3 linked regions of the Homo sapiens genome follow. The protein of the gene in region 3 purifies or fractionates together with the protein of the main gene of each other region. This does not show direct contact. Each region holds a gene or a part of one and is shown on either strand. Other genes may lie near its edges.

The links.
Region 1: the proteins of RNF146 (region 3) and HLTF purify together in Homo sapiens (affinity purification with mass spectrometry; 4 studies listed by BioGRID and IntAct, with this or other methods). This does not show direct contact.
Region 2: the proteins of RNF146 (region 3) and SUPT16H purify together in Homo sapiens (affinity purification with mass spectrometry; 4 studies listed by BioGRID and IntAct, with this or other methods). This does not show direct contact.

Annotation. Positions count from the first base shown.
Region 1 is NC_000003.12:149,041,528-149,045,182, reverse strand, and holds part of HLTF (helicase-like transcription factor), read left to right. Parts: intron 1-2,892; coding exon 2,893-3,017; intron 3,018-3,502; coding exon of another isoform or gene 3,503-3,514; coding exon 3,515-3,655. UniProt on the Homo sapiens protein: Has both helicase and E3 ubiquitin ligase activities. Possesses intrinsic ATP-dependent nucleosome-remodeling activity; This activity may be required for transcriptional activation or repression of specific target promoters.
Region 2 is NC_000014.9:21,352,952-21,356,606, forward strand, and holds part of SUPT16H (FACT complex subunit SPT16), read right to left. Parts: intron 1,590-3,655; coding exon 1,460-1,589; intron 882-1,459; coding exon 752-881; intron 615-751; coding exon 537-614; intron 1-536. UniProt on the Homo sapiens protein: Component of the FACT complex, a general chromatin factor that acts to reorganize nucleosomes. The FACT complex is involved in multiple processes that require DNA as a template such as mRNA elongation, DNA replication and DNA repair.
Region 3 is NC_000006.12:127,269,739-127,273,393, forward strand, and holds part of RNF146 (E3 ubiquitin-protein ligase RNF146), read left to right. Parts: intron 1-3,655. UniProt on the Homo sapiens protein: E3 ubiquitin-protein ligase that specifically binds poly-ADP-ribosylated (PARsylated) proteins and mediates their ubiquitination and subsequent degradation. May regulate many important biological processes, such as cell survival and DNA damage response.

The sequences.
Region 1 (3,655 bases), on a different chromosome or scaffold from region 3:
TGCCTGGTGAGCTTGAAGAATAACAGAGAAGCAAGTGTGGCTGGATAGTATGAACGAGAGAAAATAGTCATGATATCAGAGATTTATTGGAATGGGGGTATGTAACGCATATGTCAAGGACTTTGGCTTTTACTTTTTATGACAGGAAACCTTAAAGGGTTTTGAGCCAGGAGAGGGACGTAATCTGATTTATATTTTTAAAAGATCACTCTGGCTGCTGTGCTCAGATTTAGGTTATTTGAATAGGAATAAGGTCAGAAGTAGGGAGACCAGTGGCAGTCAAAGCAAGAGATGATGGTGGTTTTTACCATAGTAGTGATAAAGGGAGTGAGAAATGATTAGATTCTGTTAAATTGTGAACGTAGAACCAACAGAACTTGCTGGTTGATATGTTATGGCATGTGAAAGAGGAATCAAAGATAACTTCAAGCCTTTTTACCTGCATAAGTGGAAGGCTGGAATTGCTGTTTACCAAGACAGGTCTATGGGAAGAGCAGAGATTTTTTTAAGCTAAGATCAGAAGCTCAGTTTTGGACACATTGATCATAGGATGCCCGTGAATTTTCCAAGTAGAGATATCAAATAATTAGTTGGATAGGAGAGTCGAGTTCAAAGTCAGCTATGTGTGGATGGTAATTAAAGCCATGAGATCACCAAGGGAGTGAGTAAAGTGAAAGAGATCTAACTGTGAAGATAGCAATGGCTGGTGAAATAGGAGGAAGGAAGCTTCTAATATTTAGCACATGGTAGGCACTCAAAAGAGATCTCTTAAATTGAAATGCTGAGTATCAGTAAGATATGACCATGCCAGGGAATAATTAGTGTTAGTAAAGGTTATTCTATTTGAAAAAGTTGAAAAAGATTAACTTTATTGAAACTGTTCTCAGAAAATAAGTTATTTTTAAAGTATTCTTTTTAATAGGCTATATATTTACTAACATTTATTTAGCACTCACTAGGTGTTATACATTGATCTTAGTGCTTTAAATGTATTCACAGCAATCCTATTAGGTCAGTATAATTATCCACATCTTATAAGTGAGGAAACTGAGGCACAGAGCAGTTTAGGTGACTTACACTGTTGTCACACAGCTAGTGAGTGACAGGACAGATTAACTCTGGCACTTTGGTTTAGAGCTTGTAAGTTTAATCTTTGTATTATTTTGCCTATTCCTTGCATTCTTGAATATTCAGAAATGTTTGTTGCCATAATACTACCAGTACTAATACTAGCAACAGATTCATGTATAGCACTTAATATAGTCCAGGCACTATTTTAAATACTTTACATGTATTAAATTAAATAACAGTAGTTGTATGAGGTAGGTACTTTTACAATGCCACTGTTAGAACTGAGGAAGCTCAAGACATAGGTTAAGCAACCTGTCCAAGGTTACATAATTAAATTGGCACAGCCAGGTTTTGAATTCATGACCAGCTAGCTCTAAAAATTTGTACTCTTAGCCGTTAGGCTATATTTCTTCTGTTGCCTTAAAATACTTAAATATCAGATGGCCTGGTTATATAATTTTTGGATCACCCATTTCCTTAAGAATCTATGTTGTCATTGTACCACTGTATTTTGTATAGAATGTTTCTGTGGGGAAGCCTGGTTTTTTTTTTTTTTTTTTTTTTCCCTCTGAAGTTCAGCAACTTCTTTGTTGACTTTCCCCTGGGACATGTGATATTATTTAAATCTTTAGATTCCAGGCTTTTCCCCCCTTCTCTTTCCTGGAAAGCTTTCTTTAAATATTGTTTTCTGTTCCATTATTTTATTTCTCTCTGTGTATGTTAGATGTCTTTTATCTGTGTTCCATAGGTATCATTTTATTTCTGATCTTTTACATTTTTTTGTTTAATTTTGATTTTCTCAGTCCTGTTTCCTACATCCTTTTCTATGTTTTTATCAGTGACTAGTCTTTTTTTATATTGGCTTATATTGGTTTCAGTGTGACTTTCATTTCTCTGATGATTCACTGTTTTCTTTCACTTTCTTGAGCCATACCAGCTCATCTTTCATCTCTTCCTGTTCTCTTGCCATATTTTTTCAAAGCTCTTTGTCTTTGCTTTAAGATTTTTTTTTTTTGGAGGAATTGTTTTATTGAGTGGTGTTAAATTGTGACAGTATCCTTGGTCATAATTTTTATTTGCTCTGTGGCAACATTTTTCTGCTGAGTTTTCTTTCACTGCCATGTGTCCCCTACCTTTGCTCTCTGCTGATTATTACTTATATTTGAATATCTTGAGTTCTTCTTGGACTAGCTATTTGCTAGTCCAGATATACAAAAGGGAAAGGTCACAATCATGTCCCCGACCAGCAGGAAATAACCCAATTTACTTAAGACTCAGGGTTACATGTTGAGTTACTTTAGGTTTTATTAGTACACATAAACAGAGATCAGAAACTTTAGGGGTGCTTGGAGTGTAGAGTGCTGTGCCCATAGTCTTTTTTTGAAAATACAGTGCACCTGTATGTTTCTGTATTCAGTTTACCTTCCCTCTTTTTTTGATATAAATTTCTCCATGGAAGCTCAAGTCACCAAGCATGCACCCTGTTCCTGTTTCTGCACATGAGAGGTATTGATTTTCCCCTCAGGGCATGCCATCCATTTTAAAGAATTGTGTTTTGGCAGCTCTGTTTGAGATCTGCAGTCATCCCTCTCAGCATCTTCCTATCTGACTTAGACTGCAATTGGCAGCCATTTCTCATATATTGTGCCTTATTGTTATAGATCTCTCTTGGTTTTATTAGAGTTGCTTTTCTGCTTTTCATTCTTGTTTTGGAGTAATTTCTAGAGAAGAAAAGAAAAATGCCATTTTACTCTGCTGTTTTAGAATAGGAAGTTATTATTGTTTAGCGGACTTAATAATATTTGACATTTTAATCTCTAGGTATTTTAATGAAGGGACTGTCCTGGCACATTATGCAGATGTCCTGGGTCTTTTGCTTAGACTGCGGCAAATTTGTTGCCATACTTACCTTCTTACAAATGCAGTGTCTTCCAATGGCCCCTCAGGTAGGTAAATTTGATTGCTTCATATCATTGTATTTGTCAGAGATACTTAAATAAGAGTGATAAATTTTTTTTATGTGGCATACATTTAGTTTATTTTGTTCTGTCAAATGGAGATTGCTTTTAGTGTGAGACTCAGCTAGGAATACATCCAATAATTTTTTTACCAATGAAATGGAATTATAATGAGGTCTTTCCAGGAATTCCGGTGATAGATACCCTTTGATGAAAGATTCATATTGGATCTGCCTTTTATTGTGTGGTGGTATGTTATTGTCATGTTATAATGATGCTTCTCTATGAGGTATATTATGTGAGTTGGCTACTATTTTGGCTTCTGAATGTTTCTTAAATTTCAAATTTAAATTATGCTTTTTGCCTATGGCAGAAAATGATGAGAGACTTTCCCTACTGGCAAGCGAAACTTTTCCTTATAAGATAGATTAACTTGTCATATTACAAACCTTGCTCTGAAATTAATTTTTCAGCCTTTTCTCTAGGAAATGATACACCTGAAGAACTGAGAAAGAAGTTAATAAGGAAGATGAAGTTAATTCTGAGCTCAGGTTCAGATGAGGAATGTGCAATTTGCCTGGATTCTTTAACAGTTCCTGTGATAACACATTGTGCACATGTATTTT
Region 2 (3,655 bases), on a different chromosome or scaffold from region 3:
AACCTTGGTTTATTTACAAAAGGGAGAATTATTTAAGGGTTAAATAAGGTAACCTATGAAAACTACCTATTCCCAATGCTTGGAACACAGCAGTTAATATTTATTTCCTTTTAAGCTTTAAAACGTTTGTTTGGGGTTTGGCTTCAGAGTAACTAGATTAGCATTATAAAGACATGCCTAACCTGGAAGAAGCCTAGAAAATTAAAGTATTATAGGATTTAGGTTTGGAAACTGAGTAGGCTAATTCTTGAGTATTACATGAATATGTGGCTATCATGGCTATAGGAAAGATGGGGGCTTGCGCAGATGAAAACAGCATCCAGTTTGGCAGAGCACTGCCCACTGGAGAGTATGGACACATTCCACACCTCATTTTCTCCTTCAGTCAATGAAGTTGTATCTGTGGCTCCAAAGCACTTTTATAGTGTTCTTTTGTTACTTTCATTACGCCATCAATACTAACACCTCAAAATATTGAAATGTGTTAGAAATTTGTGCGTAGACAAATGAATAAAAAACAACACATTTTTAAAAACCTTTTCGGGCTTCTTCCTCCAGTTCATCCCAATCCTTTCCACTCTCTTCTTCACTACCCAATGACTCCTTAGAATAGTCTGGAAGAAAATTAATTAAGCGTTAGTCATCATGCGGGAACAGAATGGAACGACAGAGTTCTTAGTCTAAAAAAAGTAGTTTTCAGAAATGACATTAGATTAGGAAGCCAGGACGAACTTTGCTCTGTAAGACTAACCTGACTCTTCTGCTTCTGATGAATAATCTTCATCACTGTCCTCCTCTTCCTCTTCATAGTCATCTTCTGAAGGATTAAAAGTCTCATCTTCAATTTCAGACTCTGAATCCCCTTCTTCAGCATCACTCCCCTGGTGAGTTAGAGCATAATACTGATTTTTTTTTGACATTTACCTTATTAACTTAATGAATTAATTCAGCCCACATAGTATACCAGTATTTACATGAAGAAAACAAGAGCAAAATAATCTGAGGGATCAAGAGATAAAATGACTTGTTTAAAATTAGTGGTCAGGTGCAATTATTATTTTACTATTATTATGTATTATTACATTTCTGAAAAATTCACGTTAGCCTTCCTCACCCAGGGAAATTAACAACAGAAAGACTTTCTGTATTTACGTATCACACAAACGTTAAGTGGATCATTTTTTAAAAAATAATTTTTGCAAAATGCCCTGAAGGATTTTTCCCTAAATGCTAAGAAACTCATTGAGGAAAAGTTTTTGTAATTTCCAAGAAATCTTGTCAGGAGTTAGTTACCACTGCCCAATCAATTTATCAATTTGAAGAAACAATAATATCAAGTGGTGTTTAGAGCTTCTCCCAGATGGCCTAGTCCCTTATGTACTACTCATATTCCATTCTAACTGACCAAATGATAGCGGGCAACACTGTGTACCAGAAAAGAAACCCCACACTCACGCACCTCACCCTCAGGCTCCAGGAAAGACCAGCCACCTTGTTCGAAGAAGCCCTCAGGGTCATCAACAATGGTCTTCATGATTTTAGTCCAGTTGAGGGACTGTACTCCTTCTGTGTATTTCAGGTCGCAGGAACTAAGAGAAATGACATGACAAAGTCAAATCAATCTTCTGTATTTTCCATATATTCTTTCTTCTTTTTTTGAGACAGAGTCTTGCTCTGTTGCCCAGGCTGGAGTGCAGTGGCACAATCTTCGCTCACTGCAACCTCTGCCTCCTAGGTTCAAGTGATTCTCCTGCCTCAGCCTCCCGAGTATCTGGGATTACAGGCGCATGCCACCATGCCTGGCTAATTTTTATATTTTTAGTAGAGACAGGGTTTTGCCATGTTGGTCAGGCTGGTCTAGAACTCCTGACTTCAGGTGAATAACCTGCCTCAGCCTCCCAAAGTGCTGGGATTACAGGTGTGAGCCACCGCGCCCTGCCTGGGAGCAGATATTCTTTGCACTATGCCACCAGATCATGTCCCAATGGCTGCTATTTGATCTCCTAGAGCACTAGCCCTCACAACAGACCAACATTCCAACTGAAACAAGCTTTCTCCTTCACCTGAGTCTGAGCTCATCCTCTCCCATTTTCTTCCTTAAACACCAATTTCCCTCTTCTTCACTTAGTCTTCTCTCCTATTCACCCATGCTTTTCCCTCTCTGTCACTGATTCCATTCTTATTTCTAAGTAGTCTTAACTCATAACCACTTCTGCGATTCTGTTTTTCACTATTGTAGTTAAGAAATAGGGACAATTTTCAGCCGGGTGCGGTGGCTCACGCCTGTAATCCCAGCACTTTGGGAGGCCAAGGCAGGCGGATCACGAGGTCAGGAGATCGAGACCATCTTGGCTAACACGGTGAAACCCCGTCCTACTAAAAATACAAAAAATTAGCCAGGCATGGTAGCACGCGCCTGTAGTCCCAGCTACTTGGGAGGCTGAAGCAGGAGAATCGCTTGAACCTGGGAGGTGGAGGTTGCAGTGAGCCGAGATCGTGCCACTGCACTCCAGCCTGGGCAACAGAGTGAGACTCTGTCTCAAAAAAATATATAATAATAATAAAAAAAAAAAAAAAAAAAAAAAGAAAGAAACAGGGACAATTTTCAATGGCCCTAGCCTTTCTTCTTCAACCTTTCACTGCTTTCCTATGTGTTGTTTATTTGATGCAAAATCTGTATGAAGGTAGGAACAAATTTTTTTTCCCAGTACCTAAAGTGCCCTGTATTTAGACAATGCTCAAATGACTTTCTCTTTCTCACTTCTGTTGAGGAGGGCTGAATCAGTTAAGAGTGGGTAAGAAGAAAAAAATCAAAGAAATGACAATAGTAAGGATAAAAACAAACAACCATAAAATCTGCCTGAGAACCACTGGCATAAATCCACTTTAGACAATATACACGGCAACTTCTGCTTCCAGCCATGATGGAGTAACAATGACTAGATTTACTTTCCCACCTTAAACAACTACAAAACAAAATATGAAACAACAGTTTTCAGACATTGGATAAAAAGCAGCACAAGACCATAATCCCTGAAAGAAGGAAACAACAAGGGTTAATTGAACATTTGCCCCAGTTTTCTGTCTAGAGGCAATTCCTAGCCTGCTATGCAGGGAGGGAGAATCCACCACAACCTGATGGTCTCCAGGAACTGAGACAAAGTAGGATTTGGGAAGGCTGGGACAGCTAGAATTTGTGGAGAAGAGTACAGGAAGGAAGAGTTTCCCAGAGAGAAAGCTCCAGAGATCTGCAGAGGGGTCCCCTCAAGTCTTTGGTGGAGGGATGATCTACACATTCATGAGAAAACTGGAACTGCATAAAGAAGCACTGGAAAGCAGTAGGACAGACAACTCCCAATCTCACACAGAACTAGAAATAAATCGTGTTCCAGTGGATTTATTTCCACCACCTTTCCACCAGCTTCAGCAGAGAGATCTCACAATCCACAGGGCATCAGGCAGACTCTGAAGAGTATTGCCTCGTAGTAAGGCCAATTACTTGGAAGTTTTTGAGTGAAACTTTTAAAGGCTGTTCTAAATCCACACTAATAGACATTTGAGAACAAGCCTTGAAAGATCAAACAGAATCCAACTAACTTGACTGCATCCTAGAATAACCTCATCTCTAGTAAAAAAAAATTAGCTGGGTGTGGTA
Region 3 (3,655 bases):
AATACTAAGATGTGTCTGCTAACTCACACCTGATTTATCTACTCCTTTTATGTATATATAATTTTTTTTGAGTTGTGTACCAAAAGTTGGAACATTTCAAGTATTTTTTCTTTCTGTCACTGAGTGATTTCATGTAGAACATTTACTGTTTTGTGTATTTTGAATAAATGGCAAAAATCTTATTAAACATTAGCTGTTAATAATTAGAAAAATACAGTAAGTCTTCAAATATTTATAATTGATATTTGTCTTTGTTTTTATATGTATTTATATTGATGTTATATGCTCATCTTTTTCTTTGATTAAAGATAATCGCTTGCTTGAATCTATTACCTGAAAAAAACTCTTGACTTTGATCTTGTGACTGACTTGAAAAGTGGGAGTATGAGTATTTTGAGTTGTTACAAATTATAAATGGTACAATATTACTTCATTTTTAGTTGTATTTATTTTTCACTTATTTGAATGGGTCAAGATTTAAATTCATTGATAATCCCTAAACCCCTTTGTGTATTTTTAAGTTTTACCTGTCACTGTTTTTTTCCTCCAGAATTGTTAGGGGCAAAGTATCTAATTTGGTTTTAGACTTTTTCTTTTTTTTATGTTACCTTCTTCATACATCATCATATTAAGTTTGGTGTAAAATTTACAGGTCATTCATTCCAGTAGGAATTATGTATGTTTGAGTTATTTATGTTTGGCAAATTAATTCTGGCCTGTAGTTGAAATCATACTGTTCTGTTTTACATCCCCCTATTGGTTAAAATAAAAGCATCCCTTCTCCTCCAACTTTAAAAAAACTTTGGTTTCAAATAATGTGGGAGTTTTCTGAGGGCTTCTTCACATGATTGTTATAAGTATTACATGTATGCCCTATTTTGTGCCCAGTTGAAATTATAGTTGACCATTGAACAAAGGTTTGAACCGTGTAGTTCCACTTATACAATACTTTTTTTTTCTGCCCCTGCCACCCCTGAGAGAGCAAAACCAATGTTTCTTTCTCGTCCTCCTGAAAAAGATGAAGGCCTTTATGATGATCCATTTCTACTTAATGAATGTAAACATATTTTTCTTCCTTATGATTTTTTTTTTTTTTGAGATGGAGTCTTGCTCTGTCATTAGGCTGGAGTGCAGTGGTGCGATCTTGGCTCACTGCAACCTCCACCTCCCAGATTCAAGAGATTCTCCTGCCTCAGCCTCCCAATTAGCTGGGACTACAGGTGTGCGCCACCATGCCCAGCTAATTTTTGTATTTTTAGTAGAGACGGGGTTTCACCATGTTGGCCAGGATGGTATTGATCTCTTGACCTCATGATCTTCCTGCCTCAGCTTCCCAAAGTGCTAAGATTACAGGCGTGAGCCACCGCACCTGGCCTCCTTACGATTTTTTAAATAATGTTTTCTTTTTTTTAGTTTATTGCAAGAAAACAATATATAATACAACATACAAAACATATATTAATCCACTGTTTATGTTATCAGTAAAGCTTCCAGGCAATAGTAGACTATTAGTAGTTAAGTTTTTGGAAACTCAAAAGTTTACATGGAATTTTGACTGCGCAGGGTGTAGACATTCTTAACTCCTCACATTGTTCAAGGGTCAACTGTATAAATTCTGAGAGTTAATAGGTGATGGGTCAGTTTGGCAGAATTGGGGCTACCTAAACCCATTAACTTTGATTATAACAGAATATGCAGTTTTCTTTTTTAATGTGTCTTCGGCAAAAGTCTAGGTAAATTAACATTGAATTCATTGTCTCTATTAAACAATTCCTGTAGTGACTTGTCAGTTTTGTATTTAACAAGATTAATATGCAAGACATTCTAGACCAGCATTGCCCAGTAAAGTAGCCACTAGCCACATGGAGTTATTGAGCACTTGACATGTATCCAGTCTGAATTAAGTTGTGCTGTAAGTGTAAAATACACACTGGATTTCAAAGAAGTATGCATACGCTTACCCAAGAACATAAAATATTACATTAACAATTTATATTGAAACATACTGAAGCAGTAATGTAGAAACGTTGGATTAAATAAAATATATTATTGAAATTAATTTTACCTGTTTCTTTCTATTATTATTTTTGTAGAAATGGGGGTCTCACCATCTTGCCCAGGCTGGTCTATAACTCCTAGGCTCAAGCCATCCTCCTGTGTCACTACCCACAAAGTGCTAGGATTACAGATGTGAGGCACCATGCCCTGCCTCTTTTTATTATTAATGTGGCTAATAGAAAATTTGAAATTGCATACGTGGCTTGCATCATATTTCTATTAGATAATACGTGACCTTTTCTGTGAGAGACAATACATTGTAGAAAGACATTTTTAAAGGTAAATTTGAATTTGAATCGCATCTCCCAATATTGATGGCTTTGACTTTGGGTAAGTCATTTAACTTCCTGAGCTTAGGCTTCCTCATTTGTGAAATAGGTATAGTCATATTTCACAGGGTTGTTTTGAGGATTCAGTGACATATGGATTTGGTAGTGTTTCACTAACTAATATATGTGAATCACTTGGAGATCTGGTTCTGTAGGTCTAGGGTGGCACTTAGGATTTTCATTTGTGAAGAGCTCCCAGGTAGTGCTGATAGTACTAGTTGGGAATCCCAGTTTGTTTGTATAGCTAGGATCTAGAGCATTATGTTAGTTTTAATTCATTTTCCTTCCCCAGCATTTATCCAGTTAGTCTGCACTTTGAAAAAATTATTCATGAGGATATAGAAATTGAAAAAGTCACCAAAGCATGCAAGATTTACTAAAATTATATGAACTGTGGACTCTTAGGGCTGCTGTAGGATTCCTGTTTACATCTGTTAAGTTTTTTGTCTGCTTTTATCTGGAGTCACTTTTATTGGTTGCATAAGATGGCTAAATCTCAGCCAAGAAGAACCTGGTTGTGTTGTTCTACGCAAATGTATTTTTGAAAGATAATGCATAATGAGAGGTGAAATAAAAGAATGCTCAAAGACAATAAGAGGGCAGTACAATTGACCCTTGAGCAACATGGGGTTAAGGGTGCCAACCCCTTGCACAATTGAAAATCTGAGTATAAGTTTTGACTTCCCCAAAATTTAACTACTAATAGCCTACTGTAAAGTCAGTTAACACGTTGTTTGTTATATGCATTACATACTATATTCTTACAATAAGCTAAAGGAAAATAAATTCCTAAGGAAGAAAAAATACATTTACAGTACTGCATTTACCGATACTGTGTTTATGTTACCTGTTTATAAGGTGTCTGTCTGAAATGATGGGTAACTGCAGCTGCAGACCCATCTAGGGTGTGTACCAGGTAATTTAACTTCTTGTAATGGCATGACTTCTTGGCTTCTTGGGAGCACTTCTAGCATCACTAGTGGCACTTCACATGGGTCCCATGGTGTTATTCAAGGTTTATGGTATTGTACTAAACATGATGAAAAATACACAAGAACAAGAGATTACATTTTACTCCAATACATGCAGAGATGATTAGTGTCCACAGCATTTTAAGTGGAAATTCATAATAGCAACAGGAAATTATTACAGTATGTACTACAATTAATTTTATACAGCTATGATTCATACTGCATCTTTACATTTGTTTAAATTTCTTGTACCACCTCAAGTGGCACCATATGTGTCTGTGTTTACTAAGTTTTGAT